Linked DNA regions of Homo sapiens: region 1 is linked to region 2. Evidence: fine-mapped expression QTL. Tissue or cell type: monocytes after interferon gamma. Region 2 holds a variant in brackets; the other region holds the start of a gene. All regions are shown on one strand. Distances are between the middles of the regions.

Evidence for each region. PIP is the estimated chance that this variant, and not a neighbour inherited with it, causes the effect.
Region 1: ANXA2 starts here. The variant in region 2 is fine-mapped to the expression of ANXA2 in monocytes after interferon gamma (Fairfax 2014, PIP 0.95).

What each region holds. Positions count from the first base shown.
Region 1 is chr15:60,393,125-60,401,210 of GRCh38, reverse strand. It overlaps ANXA2 (annexin A2), which reads left to right and starts at 3,225. Exons shown (of 13, transcript NM_004039.3): 1 at 3,225-3,268. RefSeq lists silencers at 2,493-2,802, 2,923-3,462, 3,533-3,672 and enhancers at 3,833-4,022, 4,043-4,092, 4,153-4,202, 3,696-4,287, 4,288-4,879 and 1 more.
Region 2 is chr15:60,171,981-60,180,085 of GRCh38, reverse strand. The region is part of intron 1 of LOC105370839 (a long non-coding RNA gene); the gene reads right to left. Among named protein-coding and RNA genes, the nearest start is that of FOXB1, 170 kb to the right of the region's middle. The variant C/A (reference allele first, on the strand shown) is at 3,627.

The DNA of each region.
Region 1 (8,086 bases), 220 kb before region 2:
AGGCCTGGCAGCTTCAGCTTTTGCTTCTAGAAGGCTGGCTGCCATGACTACCGTGGTGTAGCAAAAGAGGAGAACCTGGAGGATGTAAGACCAAGGAAGAGAAAGGCCCAGCCTGCTCTTTGTCATTCTAGCAATCCCAGCTCAGGCGCCAGACGAATGAAGCTGCTTTCAATCTTCCAACCCCAACTAAGCTACCCAACCCAACATGCTGTGGAGGAGCACCAAGCTGTCCCCACTGGGTGTCCTGCTTAAATTGCAGAATTACAAGCAAGTAAATGGTTATGTTTAACCACTAAGTTTATGGGGATAATTTGTTATACTGCAAAGGTAACTGATACGAGGGCCTTGGGTGCATTATTTAATCCCTGGACTGGGCAGGAGATTTTATTTGGACTCCAATTTCTTCATATGTAAAAATCAAGAGCCGGGTATAGTAATTCACGCCTGTAATCCTAGAACTTTGGGAGGCTAAGGTAGGCAGATCACTTGAGCCCAGAAGTTCGGGACCAGCCTGAGCAGCATAGCAAGACTTTGTCGTCTCTACAAATAATAGAAAAATTAGCCAGGCTTGGTGGCGTGGGCCTGTGGTCCCAGCTACTCAAGAGGCTGAGAGGAGAGGATTTCTTGAGCCTCCGCAGTCAAGGCTGCGGTGAGCCCTAATCATGCCATGCGTTCCAGCCTGGGTGACAGTGTGAGATCTCAACTAAAAGATATAAGAATAATAATAGTAAAAATCAAGGATAGGGCAATTTAATCTCTAGGGTCCCTCCCTGCTTTAACATTCTATTATTCAGTGAATAATTGTATTTTATCATTCTATCACATTTAGTGAGTGCCTATCATTGCTAGCTAGGCGCTAGTAGGTGTTGAGTGCAGCAGATGAAGTGTGAACAAAACAAAGTCAAGCACTTAGAGAGCAATATGGACAACAGCAGACAATCTGAGGGCTGATGTAAACATTCTCCTCAACCAGGGGGGAAAATAGAGTCTTCTGACTAATAAAAGATCTTTTATACTGGAAGAACTGGCCTCACATTCCTCAGAAATAGCAAACTATGACTTCTAATAGCTTCATTTTTATGATAACATCAGTGCACATTTCTTTAGCATGATGCAAAGACTGGTGATTGTACAAATCTATAGAAGTTAGAATTTGTGGCATGCCCAAGATGAGCACAAAACTCTTTTGGACATTTGATGGCTTTTATATATTCCACATGATTTGAATTAAATTTTATCTTCTGTAAAGGGCCTATCACAGCACGATTAGGAGTAAGAGACTGTGGAACCTATCTTGAGATACACAGAAGGGAGGCTGAATCGTGCCCAATATTACTGTCTGCCTGTGTTCCCCTAACCTTCCAAAATGTTCACACAAAGTAAGCAGATAAACATTGTTTCTGACTTTGAAGCTTTCAGGCTAAATTGAAGAGCTATAAATGTAAATCAGCAATTGTACCCAAAGTGTTGCTTGATTTTCTATTTGGCTCTGTGGTAGGGCCCATCGCGTATAATTCCTCGTGAAAGCGCTGGGTAACAGAAAGCTTTGGGCGGGTTAAAAGACCTCAGCTGTGGCCGACTTTGCCTGTGTCACTCTATGCGAGTGGGCAGAGCACTGAATGTCTGTTGGCCTTGCTATCATTCTCTGATTCCCAGGAGTGAATTGACGCTCAAATGGAAAGTAAAAATGGATGTTAAGATAAATGGGAGATTGAAACACAGAATCATCAAAACCAGGAAAAAGAGCTGCAGGAAGTAGTGTGCAAGGAGGGGTTTAAAAAACGCAGCCAGAGATCCTCGGGATTCTCAGCGTCGCTTTCCTGTTAGTTTGAGGTTCGAATACAGTATTTGCGTCGTCTCACATACAACAAATAGGTGTCTGCCTGCACGTTGCCAACGTGACTCTTGGAAGAAAAGCGAGAAGCAGCAAAACCGAGCAAGGGAGTTGGCTAAACGGCTGCAAGAAACACACACACACACACACACACACACACACACACGGAAGAAAAGCGAGAAACAGCAAAACCGAGCAAGAGAGTTGGCTAAACGGCTGCAAGAAACACACACACACACACACACACACGGAAGAAAAGTGAGAAACAGCAAAACCGAGCAAGGGAGTTGGCTAACTGGCTGCAAGAAACTCTCTATCTCACTCTCTCTCTCTCTCTCTGTGCTGCAAGAAACTCTCTCTCTCTCTCTCTCTCTCTCTCTCTCGGAAGAAAAGCGAGTAACAGCAACACCGAGCAAGGGAGTTGGCTAAACGGCTGCAAGAAACACACACACACACACACACACACCACACACGCACACACACACCCCAGCAGTCATGAAAGAAGGAGAGGAAAGTTCTTTGTTGAAACTCCGGGTTCGAAACACACACACACACACACACACACACACACACACACACACACACACACACACGAAACTCCGGGTTCAAAGCTATGGGCCCCACCCCGCTCAGGACTGCCTGCTACGAGGCCGCGCAGAGATGCCCCAGGCGCGGAGAGAAGCGGAGCACAGCCGTGCTAGGGACAGGGGCGCCACCCTGGGCGGGACTGAGGTGGGATCCTGGCTCCCGGCTTTGGCCTCCCAGCCCAGGCTCGGGGCTTCCTGGCCCTCGGAGGCCGGGGCGGGCCAGGCTTTGCAGCACAGGGCGAATCTCCCTCCCTCCCCGGGCGCCCCCCGGGAACTGGCGGCCAGAGGTTAAGCTGACATGTTTGCAGACGGTAATGGGGCGCTGGATGCCAACAGCCCCAGCTCAGGGGAGTCCAGATTTATGTTTCTTGGAACAATTCTTTCCTCCATTGCATTAACGCCAAAAAAAAAAAAAAAAAAAAAAAAACACTTAATCAAGCCCAGAGTCTACTACTAAAGTCTTGTTAATTTATTAACCCAAGCCGAGGCTGAGAGCTCGACGTGGCACTTAAGAAGTAAAATGAGGAAAGGAGGAAGAAACGGGGTCCCTGTGGGCCTCGGGGCAGCCTCGGCCGGGCTTTCTCGGAGGGCAGGGCCAGGGGCGCTGGGGCCGCTCCCGCGTGGCGCGGCTCGGGAGCGTTCCAGGGCGCGGTCCCTGCGGGCCGGCGGGCCGGGGTGAGTCACCCCTGACTTGGGGTGGGAGCGGGCCGTGTAAGGGGGAGGCGGGGCGGGGCGGGGCGGGCCTCGCCTCGCCTAGGGAGGATGTGGCGGGTATAAAAGCCCCACCCAGGCCAGCCGGCTCTGCTCAGCATTTGGGGACGCTCTCAGCTCTCGGCGCACGGCCCAGGTAAGCGGGGCGCGCCCTGCCCGCCCGCGATGGGCCGCCAGCTAGCGGGGTGTGGAGACGCTGGGAAGAAGGGTACGGCCTGGCAGGGAGGCCCCGGCAACTGGCCCCGGAGGCCGTCGGGGGCAGGGGGCTGAAGGGACGGCCGGCACTGGAGAGTCTTTGGGGAGGGGGCTCAGGGACAAGGTGTTTGGGGCAGGGGTGAGGGGCCACCGGCCCTCGGGCCGGGAGGGTGCAGGGCAGAGGTGGTGGGGGGTCGGGCTTCTCTAAGAAGCCCTAGCGGGAGCGGGGCGAGGCGGCGTGGGGAGAGGGGCGGAGGGAGGCCCCGCATTCCAGACGCGCCAGGCGCCGCCGAGGCAGGGCGTGGCCGCCCAGGGAGCCGCAGGTCCCCGGCGCAGCAGTAGCAAGTGGGCTTTCCACTGCCCTCTAGAAAGTGCCCCCCATCTGCTCTAAGTTACTGTACTCGAAACAAACGCGCGCTTGTGGAGTTGAACCGACCAGCAGGAGGGAAGTAGCGGGGGAAGACGAGAGGGGGGAGTGTGAGTAGGCACCCCTCAGCCCCCCATAAAAGAAGACATTAAAACGTCAGTTATTCCCCTTGCTCTAGGTTATCTTGTAGCATAGCAACTTCGGATTTCACTCTACCCGGAGAGTTTCCCGCTTGGTTGAACACATTGGCCTCAGGAAGGTAGTGTCCCCCATGATTCTGTGGGGAGGGTTGTCCTGTTACTCGCCATGATGTGACAATGAGTCAGGAACTGAGAGTAGAGAGAAGGGCGTGGCCCCGGGGCCTCTCCCTTCTGGCCGCTCTGTGCAGCTGGCCCCACTGCTGGTGTGGAGGGCTTGGGTTCCATCAGCCGGCTGTTGAGAAGAAGGAGGGGAACACAGATAAGTTTCCTCATCTGGGAAGGTGGCTTAAGGATGCCTATTCTTACCACCACCCAGAGTTATTGGAGATTTCAAAAAACACAGTCATTAGGTAATAAATGTGTAAAGTACACAAAAAACAAAGTGCTGTGCAAATGCAAAGTGTCATTTTTGTAGTAAGATTGCCGTTTTAAAGCTGTGGGTGTTCTGAGTGCGTGTGTAAAAGAGCAGTGGCCTCATGGGTGCACGCTGGGCCATTACCAAGAACCTTAAGTTGTTGGTGTGCAAAGGCCTGGGCCCCAGACTGTACTGATGGATTCTGTTCACACGTGTGTGCTACTGTGCCTGTCTGGAACTTGGTGACTTGGAATGCAGAATGCACTTTCCCACTGAAACAGTGTTGCAGAAGGTGCTGACGTTCCCAGGCTAGCCCTGAAAGACCTTTTTAACATGCACTGCCTGATTATGGGATTGGTGGTGGGGAGGTGGAGGGTAGTGAGGGGCAATGTGTGTGTAGGAAGACTAAATCACTGAAATATTTTTCTGGAACTTTTTTTAGCTTTAAGGTTGACACTGAGTAAATTATTTTAATTGGAAAATTATGTCTTTGCCCCTGTTCCACTTTCTTTTTTCCACCTTCCACCTCCTTAGAGACGCTCTTCTGGCTCTTCCGTGACGCATTACAACAGCCATCCAGGCCGGTCCAGTTACGCTGCATTCCTTCCTCCTTCCCATTTCGGCGGACCTGCATCCAGCTAGAGACTAGCAGATTGAATCGATATTCATTAAGTTAGGAATGGTTGGTGGTCCTAAGAGCCTCAGCAACCGAGAGGAGTCTTGTTATTTAAAAAACAACGATACTGGGCGTGGTCGTGGGCCTGTAGTCCCAGCTGCTCAAGCTAGTGGATCTCTTGAGTCCAAGGCCAATGTGAGCAACATAGCAAGACCCAGTCTCAAAAAATAAATACATAATAATAATAAAAAACCCTCGTTCACCTAAACAGATCTATAATTTATAGAATGTAAAGCAGCAATATTCAGGCAATATTAAGGAAGATTTTTGGTAAGACTGGGGCAGCAGAGGTGCCCTTGATGGGCAAGGGCCAGGAGTGTTAACACAGTCCTGCTTAGTAATTTCTTCCCTTCTTCCAAGTCTGTCGATTATCTAAAGGTCAAGGGTTTGTCCAAAAATGTCCCTTGCATCTGCAGTGGAAGGATGTGACATGTATGTGCATTTTTACAATTGGAGGTTTGTGATTTGGAGACCGTTTAGATTTTGTAATTTCCCGCAGTGCCAACTAGACTGCCTGTGGTAAATGCCCAGGAAATATTGCTGACTCACTGACTTTGATTAGGAGCTCAGTCTTGCACTGGAGTCTCAATATTTAGCATCTTGTGTCTTTGAGCTATTAAACTATGGTATTGATTGACATTAGGCTCGCAGTCATGGCCGTTAGTTTCCTGGCTAATTTCTGATTTAAGTAGTTTTCCTGGCAAAGTAGATGTGCTTCTATAATTGCTATTGATTTTGAGGGCTGTAGGCTCTTCCTACACCACTGGGCCTAGAATCTGGCACTAATGCATTGTCTGGAGCCTTTGTTCTCACCCTTCGCTTGTGCAGAGCCTGGAGCCTGCGGAGACATTTTTCATTAAAGGAGAGCGGGATTGTCACAAAAGGAGTCTCAGGCTCTAGTGGGCTGCTTTAAACAACCATTTATTCCACAAAATATTAATTACCTACTGTGTTCCACTCATAGTTATGAGCACTAGGGATACAGCAGTGAACAAAACAGACCCCCGCCAAAAATAAAATCCCTGCTCTTTAGACCTTAAATCTGGCGGAGAGAGAAGGAAAAGAGACAAAATAAGTGAATTGTTGGATTTTAAACTTTATATTTTCCCAAATTAATACTAGTTTCTAAACTTGGTGGGAGTTCATTTCCCCTTTAATCCAGCTGTTCCACAGACCTAAACTTCACATTTTACCTACCTCGGGGAAGTTTTGCTTAAAATTATGGTGTCTTAAGCTGCCTTCCAGATTCAATTGTGAGAATTAAATAGAAATGGAATGTTCCTCTTTTTTTTCACATGAGAATCCTCTTCACTTGCCCTGGTGCCACACCCTATTCTAGTTGTAGGCCACACCAGAGGAAATTCCAGTCCTTCAAAAAAATTCTTTCCACCCATTCACTGCCTGGTATCTTTTTTCTTCTGCTGTTGCCAGAGGCAGTCCTCATCTACTTTCTCCAGGGACAGGTCAGCAGTAGGGGTCAGGAGATGCCCATATTTGTCCTTCTGGGTGGTTCTACCAGATGACTTCCAAATCTCCCTTCTAGGGTACACCCTGAAGCTGTTTTTTTTTTTCTTTTTTTTTTCTTTTGAGATGGAGCCTGGCTCTGTCACCCAGCCTGGAGTGTAGTCGCACGATCTCTCCTCACTGTAGCCTCCGCCTCCCAGGTTCAAGTGATTCTCCAGCCTCACCCTCCCGAGTAGCTGGGATTACAGGTGCCTACCACCATGCCGGGCTAATCTTTGTATTTTTAGTAGAGACAGGGTTTCATCATGTTGGCCAGGCTGGTCTGGAACTGTTGAGCTCAAGTGATCCGCCTGTCTCGGCTTCCCAAACTGCTGGGATTACAGGCGTGAGCCACTATGCCTGGCCCACCCTGAAGCTTTTAATCCAGCTGAGCTCAACTGGACAGGTCGGTAGCACCCAAGTGGCCTGAGTTTTACCCCAGGTGTGGTGTAGAAATTTCTTATTCTAGGGAGTGACTGTGTTATGGAGCCCTTTGTCCATGTCCTTTGTCTCCCTGCCACACCCAGGCTATACACTCACAGCTCAGAGGAAATCAGAGTCCTAAGGCCACTCGTACATCCTGCCTCTTTGCTGCCTTCTTGCTAGGAGTTGTAGGTTACGTTCCCATGTGGTCCTATGGACAGAGCTAGGGTCCAAGTATCCCTGACAGCACAGAGGTGGGGGGCATGGCTATATGTTGATAAGAGGCTGCCCTGAAGCGACCTGCTGGGCTTTGCTAAGATTTGCAGAAGTTGGTGATTTAAGCCTCCAACTCTGAATGCACGGAACTGGAACTGCATTCGAAATGTCCAGTCTGAGGGAGAGAGAAAATTGAGGAAGGAGAGTGTGTTGGAAAAGAAGAAAAAAAGACTTTCTAATATAGAAAGACCCAGTGTGTGTAAACCATCCCAAGATGAAATTGAATGCCTATCGTGTGCCAGGCACTGTGCTCAGACCTATGAGGAAACAGGAGGGAGTTAAGTTGGAAACCCTGTGGGCGGATAATACGGAAGACAGACTTTACACATGTAACTCTAATGTTGCACAGACACACAAAAAGCTGCAGAAGCACAGGGCAAGGAGGGGTGTGTGAGAAAGGCGGCATTTATGATTTCCTGTATCCTAAAGACTCATTCAGATGTCAGCTAATTAAGATTGAGGTTCCTGGTGGAGGGAACTTAGAAAGTGCTGAGCGTGTTTGGAGAAGAGTTAACAGTCCAGTTAACTCTTCTGTGCAGGATGCGTGTATGCATGTGTGTGTGTATAGAAGATATTTAAGGAAAGGTAGGTAAGTCCACAGTGTGGAAGGTCTTGAATGCTGACATTAGACTTTTTTCTGTAGGCGGCCAGGCCCTGTTGAAAATACAATATGTGGGCCATAAAACACTGAAATTGAGTTGCAGACTTGAAGGCCTGGATTTCCCAACCCTGAAAGTGCTTCATGCCAAGTGACATCATTCTTCCTGCCGGTCTCTTTCCACCCACTCCAACCCCAGATCAGGATACCAGCAGAGAGAGGCTGTGAGAGCATGAAGCTGCAACAAGTCAGTAGGGAGCAAACAAATATTGATTCAGATCAGGCCACAGAAGAGACAAGCTGGAGCAAGTGCTGTGTGTCCCTCCTGCTCAGTTTGATCGAGGTCACTGGGCCGAATTCC
Region 2 (8,105 bases):
AGAATACTTCTTACAGCTTAATACTTTTGTTAGGAAAATGACCCATGGGATATACAACACATACCTTCATTATCCTGTTGGGGTTGCTATGCTCTGCCACTAGGGGGTAGTATCATTGCTACTGTCTTATATCCACCAAATGCAAATTCTGTTTGCACTTTTAAAATTCTTTCTAGGTCCATTTTTTTCCCATTTAAAATGAATATACATGATCTTCCAATTAGTTTATACAGTAGTTTGAATAATTTAAGAAATGAACCTGGTGTCTCATAAATGCTTCAAAAGAAGTATAGGGACAATTTTCTTTTCTCTCTCTTGACTCCATTATTTTATGTCTTCATTAATTATTCTACTTGTAATAGTCTTACTTGTTACAAAAAGTGTCTACTATCAGTAATAAATTATTAGTACATACTTTCTGTGCTTTGCACTTGCCTATAGCGCACTGTCTTTTAACCATTTATATGAGCGGGGACATTTATATGTTCAGATACTTTGGGAGGGAGGGGAAATGCATCTCATATATTGGGGGAACATGGCATAAGACACGCACTCTGACCTCAAGAACCTTACAGTTTGATTGTGGAGATGAAATGTAGACTCATCAGATTTAAAGCACCAATGTTAAAATCTCCCAGCACTGTGGAGAATTGATCAATTTCTCCTTGTAATTCAGCTAAATTTTTTGCTTCATATAGATTGAGGCAATGTTCTTTGGTTCTTTCAATCTCATGATTGTTATATCTTCTTGGTGAATTGGTCCTTTTTTTTCCTCATATACTAATGACTCTTCTTCTAATAAGAATTTTTCCCCTTATTTTTTTTTTTTTTTTCTAATCTTAGTCTTTAAAAACTTTCTTTGGATTAGATTTGACTCATACATGTTTTTCCAATCATTTCTTTTCAACTTATTTGTGTCATTGTATTTCATACTTGTCTCTTATAAACAGCATATAACTAAATTATTATAAATTTAAGAGGCCAAGTGTGGTGGCTCACACCTGTAATCCTAGCACTTCTGGAGTCCAAGGCAGGGGGATTGGTTGAAGCCAGGAAATAGGAAAGCCTGAGGAGGGGGAGACAGATGGAGGAAAGCTAGCATGGCTAGCCTGGGCAATATAGTAAGATCTCATTTCTACGAAAAAAAAAAAAAAAGAACATTTAAAAAATTAACCAGCCACTGGCGCTTGTGCCTGTGGTCCCAACTACTTGTGAAGCTGAGGTGGGAGGATCACTTGAGCCCAAGAGTTGAAGGCTGCAGCAAGCTATGATTGTACCACTTGCACTGCAGCCCAGGTGACAGAGCAAGACCCTGCCTCTAAAAGAAAAAGTTAAGAATATCTATTCTTAATTGACTAGCTTGGTCCATTCATGATTTAAGCCATAATTTCTTTGGACTTTTTATTCAACAACTTTTCTTGGCTTTTTTTTTTTTTTCCTCCTTCACTGGCTTCCCTTAGATAGACTGAATTTTCTTTATGCCCCACCCCCCTCATACTGCTTTGAAAGTTATATATCTACTTCTTACTTTTTAGTGGCCATTCAATTTTTAACACATATACTTAGAGTTGAAATTCAATACTTCTTCCCTTCTCTCAAATAATACAAGAAACTTTGTACCCAAAGGTCTCTCTCACCATCTTGGATATTTTTCCCCTAGGATTTTGATTCTTCCTTGGTTAAAACTTTGTCATCTTTACTATTTTTCAGTGAGTATTTTTTTTAGATTTGCCTCACAATTTCTTGCCTCACTATTGCTCCTTGCAATGCTATTCCTTCATTCTGGGTTCAATTGTCTTCCTCCTACAATACATCCTTTAGCGGTTCTTTCAGCAAAGGTGGTGAACAGTAATGTCTCACAATCTTTATCTGATTGTAATATCTTTACCTTGTCAATCTACCTGAGTGATAATTTTGCTGACTTATTTTCTCCTCAGCACTTTGAAGGCATTATTCCTTTGTCTTCTGGTCTCTCTTTTTAAAAAAAATCTTCATTGGATTATGGCATTCATATAGAAAAAGCACACCCATCATGGATACACGTAATGAGCACATGTAATCAACAAGGAAATGTAATCAGAACTAGGTCAAGAAACTAAACATGGCCAGCACCCTAGAAGCTCCCTCATGGCCCCTGCCAGCCGCTAGTCCCCCAGCAGTTAAACACTATCCAGATTTCTACCAGCACTGATTACTCTTGTTTTAGTTTTTAATTTTGGTGATGACAAATCTGCCAGCCAGGCACGGTGGCTCACACCTGTAATCCCAGCACTTTGGGAGGCTGAGGCAGGCAGATTACCTGAGGTCGGGAGTTCAAGACCAGCCTGACCAACATGGTGAAACCCCGTCTCTACTAAAAATACAAAATTAGCTGGGTGTGGTGACGGGCACCTGTAATCCCAGCTACTTGGGAGGCTGAGGCAGGACAATCGCTTGAACCTGGGAGGCAGAGGTTGCAGTGAGCCGAGATTGCGCCATTGCACTCTAACCTGGGCAACAAAACTGAGACTCCGTCTCAAAAAAAAAAAAAAAAAAAAAAGAAAAAAAGAAAAATCTGTCACCAACCTAATCTTTATAGTTCATCTGTCTTTGTTTAAGATTTTATTTTTGAAGATCTGCAGTTTCATTAGGATGTATATAGCTGTGGATTTTTCTTTGCCCTGCTTTACTTTCTGTGTTTCCTAAATCTACGGATCTGTTTTCATAAATTCTGGAAAATCTCACCCATGATCTCACTGAATATTGCTTCTCTTTCATCCTTTTTACTCCTTCCTTTTGGAACTCCTAAGAAACGTATATTGAATCTTTTTATTCTATTCTGCATAACTTTTAGCTTTTATATTTCCTATCAATTTTTCTATGCTGCATTGTGGTTAATTCCCTGATTTATCTTTCCTTTCATCGATTCTCTTCTGTTGTATCTGTTATGTTATGGATTGAATTGTGTCCTCCAAAAATGTTACATTTAAGTCCTAATCTTAGTATCTCAGAATGTGGCCTTATTTGGAGATAGGATTGTTGCAGAGGTAATCAAATTAAAATGAGGTCGTTAAGGTGGCCCTAATCTACTATGACTTGTGTCCTTATAAAAAGGGATAATTTGGACACAGAGGCATGCCCAGAGGGAGGACTATGTGAAGAGGCATAGGGAGAATGCCATGTGAAGATTGGAGCTTTGCTGCAACAAGCCAAGGAACTCCGGGGGCTAGAAGAAGCTGCAAGAGACAAGGAAGGAACTTCTCCTTTCAAGTTTCAGAGGGAGGGAGCAAGACCCTGCTAACATCTTGATTTTGGGTTTAAAAAAGCGTCTAAAAGTACATTTCTGGCAATACATTTCTGTTGTTCTAAGCCACCCAATTTGTGGCACTTTGTCATGGCAGCCCTAAGAAACTAATACATTATTTATTTAGTTTTAAATTCACTGTGTTTTATCAATTTCCAAAAGTATGACATGATTTGTTTCCAAATGTATTTTTTATTATAGGGTGTCTTGTTCTTGTATCGTGGCTTCAAATCTTTCTTTAATATCTTTAGTTATTTTATTTTTAATTTTTCGGAGATAGGACCTTGGTCTTTCACCCGGGCTGGAGTGTAGTGGTTCAGTCGCAGCCCACTGCAGCCTCAAC[C/A]TCCCAGGCTCAAGTTATCCTCCCACCTCATCCTCCCGAGTAGCTGGGACTACAGTCATGTGTCACCACACCAGACTAATTTTTAAAATTTTTTGTAGAGACAGGATCTCACTATTCTGACCACGCTGGTCTCAAACTCCTAGACTCAAGTGATCCTCCCACCTTGGCCTCCCAGAGTGCTGCGATTACAGGTGTGAGCCACCATGCCTGGCCTACTTATTTTAAATATACTTATTTTTATTGCTGGTTTCAGATTGTTCTATTATCTTAAGTTATTAGTGTATTACCTTCCTGTTTGTTATATCTGCTTACTCTTTCTTATAGAGAATTATTTTCTTTTGTGATTTGTAATTTTTTTCTTTTAAGTATTAGCTTAGCAGGAGTTTTCTCCATCTTGGGGATGTTCCATGCTCCTGGGGTTGTGAAAATGTTTCTACAGAGTAGTTTTACATTTCTTATGATGGGCATCTCAGTGGTTTTATTGGTATGCATCCAGTTTTTACTTTAATTTCTTCACTGAGATTTCCTTACAGGTGGATAATGTGAGTTTAGACCCTACACCTGCATGGTCAAATAGACTTGGGGGTTTGATTTCCCATAACTGACTTTCTTTACCACTTGGATCTGGGAAAAGACAAAGTTCCTTTCTCTTCCCTTTTTGCTGTGCCTTCTAGGATCTTGATTTCATAGCCGGTTGTCAGTTCTAATTCCCCACCTTGCGTAGGCCTTCTCCACCTCTCCTGTTGCTGAATGGGTGTTTCAACCCCAGCCCCTGGTCTTTATGGCCCAAATCTAGACCCACACCTTGCTGAGTCCCCAGAGCGTGAGTTCACAGATGACACCATGGCAGCTCTGGCTGTTGTTCCTCCTCATTTCTTGTACCTGGGAATTTCTATTTTATTCTCTCTTTCTCATTTTTTCTTACAAGTTTGGTTCTGTTTCAGAAACTTTTTGCTACATTTCCCCCTGTATTTCTCTGCGCTTTTAGAAGTAAATTGAAGCTGTGTTTGTGCAGTCTGCCATTTCACTGGAGCAGAAAGCCAGGACAAATGACTGACATTGAATGTTTGTGCAGAATGGGCAGTACAAGCTGATAGAGGTTTTCAGGAGGGAGAAATTCACTGAGGAATGGGAACAGCTGAGCACTGAGGAATGCTAGGTAGAGTTCAGGTAAGGGAAGGGTTAAATGTTTTAAAAATATTTTAACATTTCAACTAGATTTGGGGTTCTATATAAAGACAAGGCCATGCATCTAATGTCCAGCATGATCATATGCACATTAAACATTCTTATATTCTGCAGATTGACAACTTTTCTCCTCTGTCTGTTCTTCCCTATGCCTTTGCCTTTGTAGAAACAAAACTGTGCTCTGCGAACCACAGGAAGCCAGGTTTTTGTAGGAATCACCACATGGCTTCAAAACCTTACCGTGCTGACTTAGTCCTCAAGGCAGTGGATGGCTATGAATAAAGAAATTAGATGGTGTTCCTAGAGTGCTTAAACCTGTAGTGAATGGAGAAAGAAGGCTCAAGTCAGAATTTTGGTTTTTAATTTTTAATTTCATCAACTGTGACTTCGTTGTCTGAAAAGACTGTGGGTAGCAAATCTCTCGCTCTACTTTGGAAATGCCCTCAACACCTACTAAAGTGGAGATATCTACTTAATCTAACTCCTAGAATTAGCTTAGGTAGATCAGATCACAATCTAATCTTTGTAACTATAGGGTAGTTACAAAGATTAAATGAGAAAGCAGAAGTGAACATGCTTTAGAATAAAAATATGTTTTATAGGACAGGCAGCAGACTCTAGAGGCTCAGAGCACAGACGCCAGAGGCGCACTGAGTTTGAAGCTCCAGCTCTGCCTCTGACAAGCTGTTATAATTTAAATCTTTGTCTAGTTTCCTCATACGTAAAATGTGGTTAATAACAGATGTACCTCTTAGGGTTGTTGTGGGAGTGTAATGAGATAATATTGCCTGATATGTAGTAAGTTCTCAATGAGTAGTAGTTTTAATTACATTCCTTGATATTGTCATCTGTATAAGAGGATTAATCTTAGGTCCAGGAACCCCAAGCAAGGCTAGAAATAAGATTGCAGTGTTTGAGAACTCTCTGAAACTGTCCCCCAAATTTTGTGTGTATGTGCATTTGTAGTGGAGTGGTGCATTTTTCTTGAGCAAAAGTCCATTTTTACCATCAGATTCTGAAAAAGATATGCCACCCAAAAAGTGTTCAGAAGCACTGATGTTTGAATCTAGGACTTTGTTTCAATCTAAGGACTATAGAGCTGCATAATCTTATGCATTCCAGATAGGCTCTATGGCCCCTGGTTAGTTCAATAAATATTTATTTTTATTATTATTTTTATTATACTTTAAGTTCGAGGGTACATGTGTACAATGTGCAGGTTTGTTACATATGTAAACATGTGCCCTGTTGGTGTGTTGTACCCATTAACTCATCATTTACATTAGGTATTTCTCCTATTGGTATCCCTCCCCCCTACCCCTACCCCACAACAGGCCCCAGTGTGTGATGTTCCCCTTCCTGTGTCCAAGTGTTCTCGTTGTTCAATTCCCACCTATGAGTGAGAATATGCGGTGTTTGGTTTTTTGTCGCTGTGATAGTTTGCTGAGAATGATGGTTTCCAGCTTTATCCATGTCCCTGCAAAGGACATGAACTCATCCTTTTTTATGGCTGCATAGTATTCCATGGTGTATATGTGCCACATTTTCTTGATCCAGTCTATCACTGACGGACGTTTGGGTTGGTTCCAAGTCTTTGCTATTGTGAATAGTGCCACAATAAACATATGTGTGCATGTGTCTTTATAGCGGCATGATTTATAATCCTTTGGGTATATACCCAGTAATGGGATGGCTGGGTCAAACGGTATTTCTAGTTCTAGATCCTTAAGGAACCGCCACACTGTCTTCCACAGTGGTTGAACTAGGTTACAGTCCCACCAACGGTGTAAAAGTGTTCCTGTTCCTCCACATCCTCTCCAGCATCTGTTGTTTCCTGACTTTTTAATGATCGCCATTCTAACTGCTGTGAGGTGGTATCTCATTGTGGTTTTGATTTGCATTTCTCTGATGGCCAGTGATGATGAGCATTTTTTCATGTGTCTTTTGGCTGCATAAATGTCTTCTTTTGAGAAGTGTCTGTTCATATCCTTTGCCCACTTTTTGATGGGGTTTTTTTCTTGTAAATTTGTTTGAGTTCATTGTAGATTCTGGATATTAGCCCTTTGTCAGATAAGTAGATTGCAAACGTTCAATAAATGTTGATGAAGAGCTGGGCCCTGGTCCGTGGTGGTCACTCAGCCATGCAGGAGCAACACCTTTGCCCAGGTAACTCTGTCTGTACCTAGAAGGGAAATGGTAACCTCTTGAGGGACTCAAATGAGAATTCAGAAAATCACTCTGATGTTTTTACCATCACTGTCATATCTTCCTTTATGGGCAATTTTACTGAAAGCCAAGTCAACTTTATCACTAAGGTGGTCCATGAAAGTATGGAAGGTTTACTTCAAGCTTTTCTTTGGGGGAAGTGTAAAAATTTCCCCTTTCCCATGAAGTGACATGAGAGCCTTTTGTTATTTCCAGTGAAAACGGAAGGTCAGGAGATTGGGAGACCTTGGTGAAGTATCCTAACATACATGATGGAGAACTCCTCAAACTTCACGAATTTTAAGAACCATTAGATTGTTTTCTTCTGTTCTTTGAACTTGCATTTGCATTGACTCAGCTCAGGCATTTAAACAGATTTAGAAAGACTTCCAAACATGTAAATGTCAAACTTTATTTCTTTTTAATGATGTGTGTCATCTAAATAGTGATGCCATCAATAGGGAATGTTGTATTTTTGTTATTTTCTTACCTTTTGCTCTCAGATGCCTTTTAACATATGTAAAAATATTTATATAGTGTTTCAAGTCTGCAGCATTCAGTACAGAAATGCTCTTTTCAGTTCTCCCTTTTGGTAATATCATATTTAACTCAAAAGAAGTCATAGGCATATTGGGGGCAGATAGTTGGTACAAATCTGACAAAAAGCTAATGAGCTCTCCTGTGATTATCAGGGAGGACGATGACTCATTAAATCTCATTTCCTGGGCAAGTCCACATAGGGAGAAGAAATTAACTGAAATAAAGGCCTGAGAACCTAATGCAGTCAGATTTATGGGCATCTGTATAAGCAGCCACATGATAATCAGAGCAAATAGTAAAATGTTTTAATGAGTTTCTGTGAAATATTTAATGGGTTACTCTATGATTTTTTTTTAAAGTTTGGTTGCTTTCTATTGGAAATTGGCTCCTTAGAAGGGAGGGTCCTGAAACCAAGTGGGGGTGTCTTTTGGTTGAATTCCATCCAAACTCTGGTTTCCCTACATAGACCTTCTTTATGTATATGTGTTAAACACTGTCATTGATATTCACAGCTATGTTGAAAAGAGGGTCAGGACGGTTAGAATC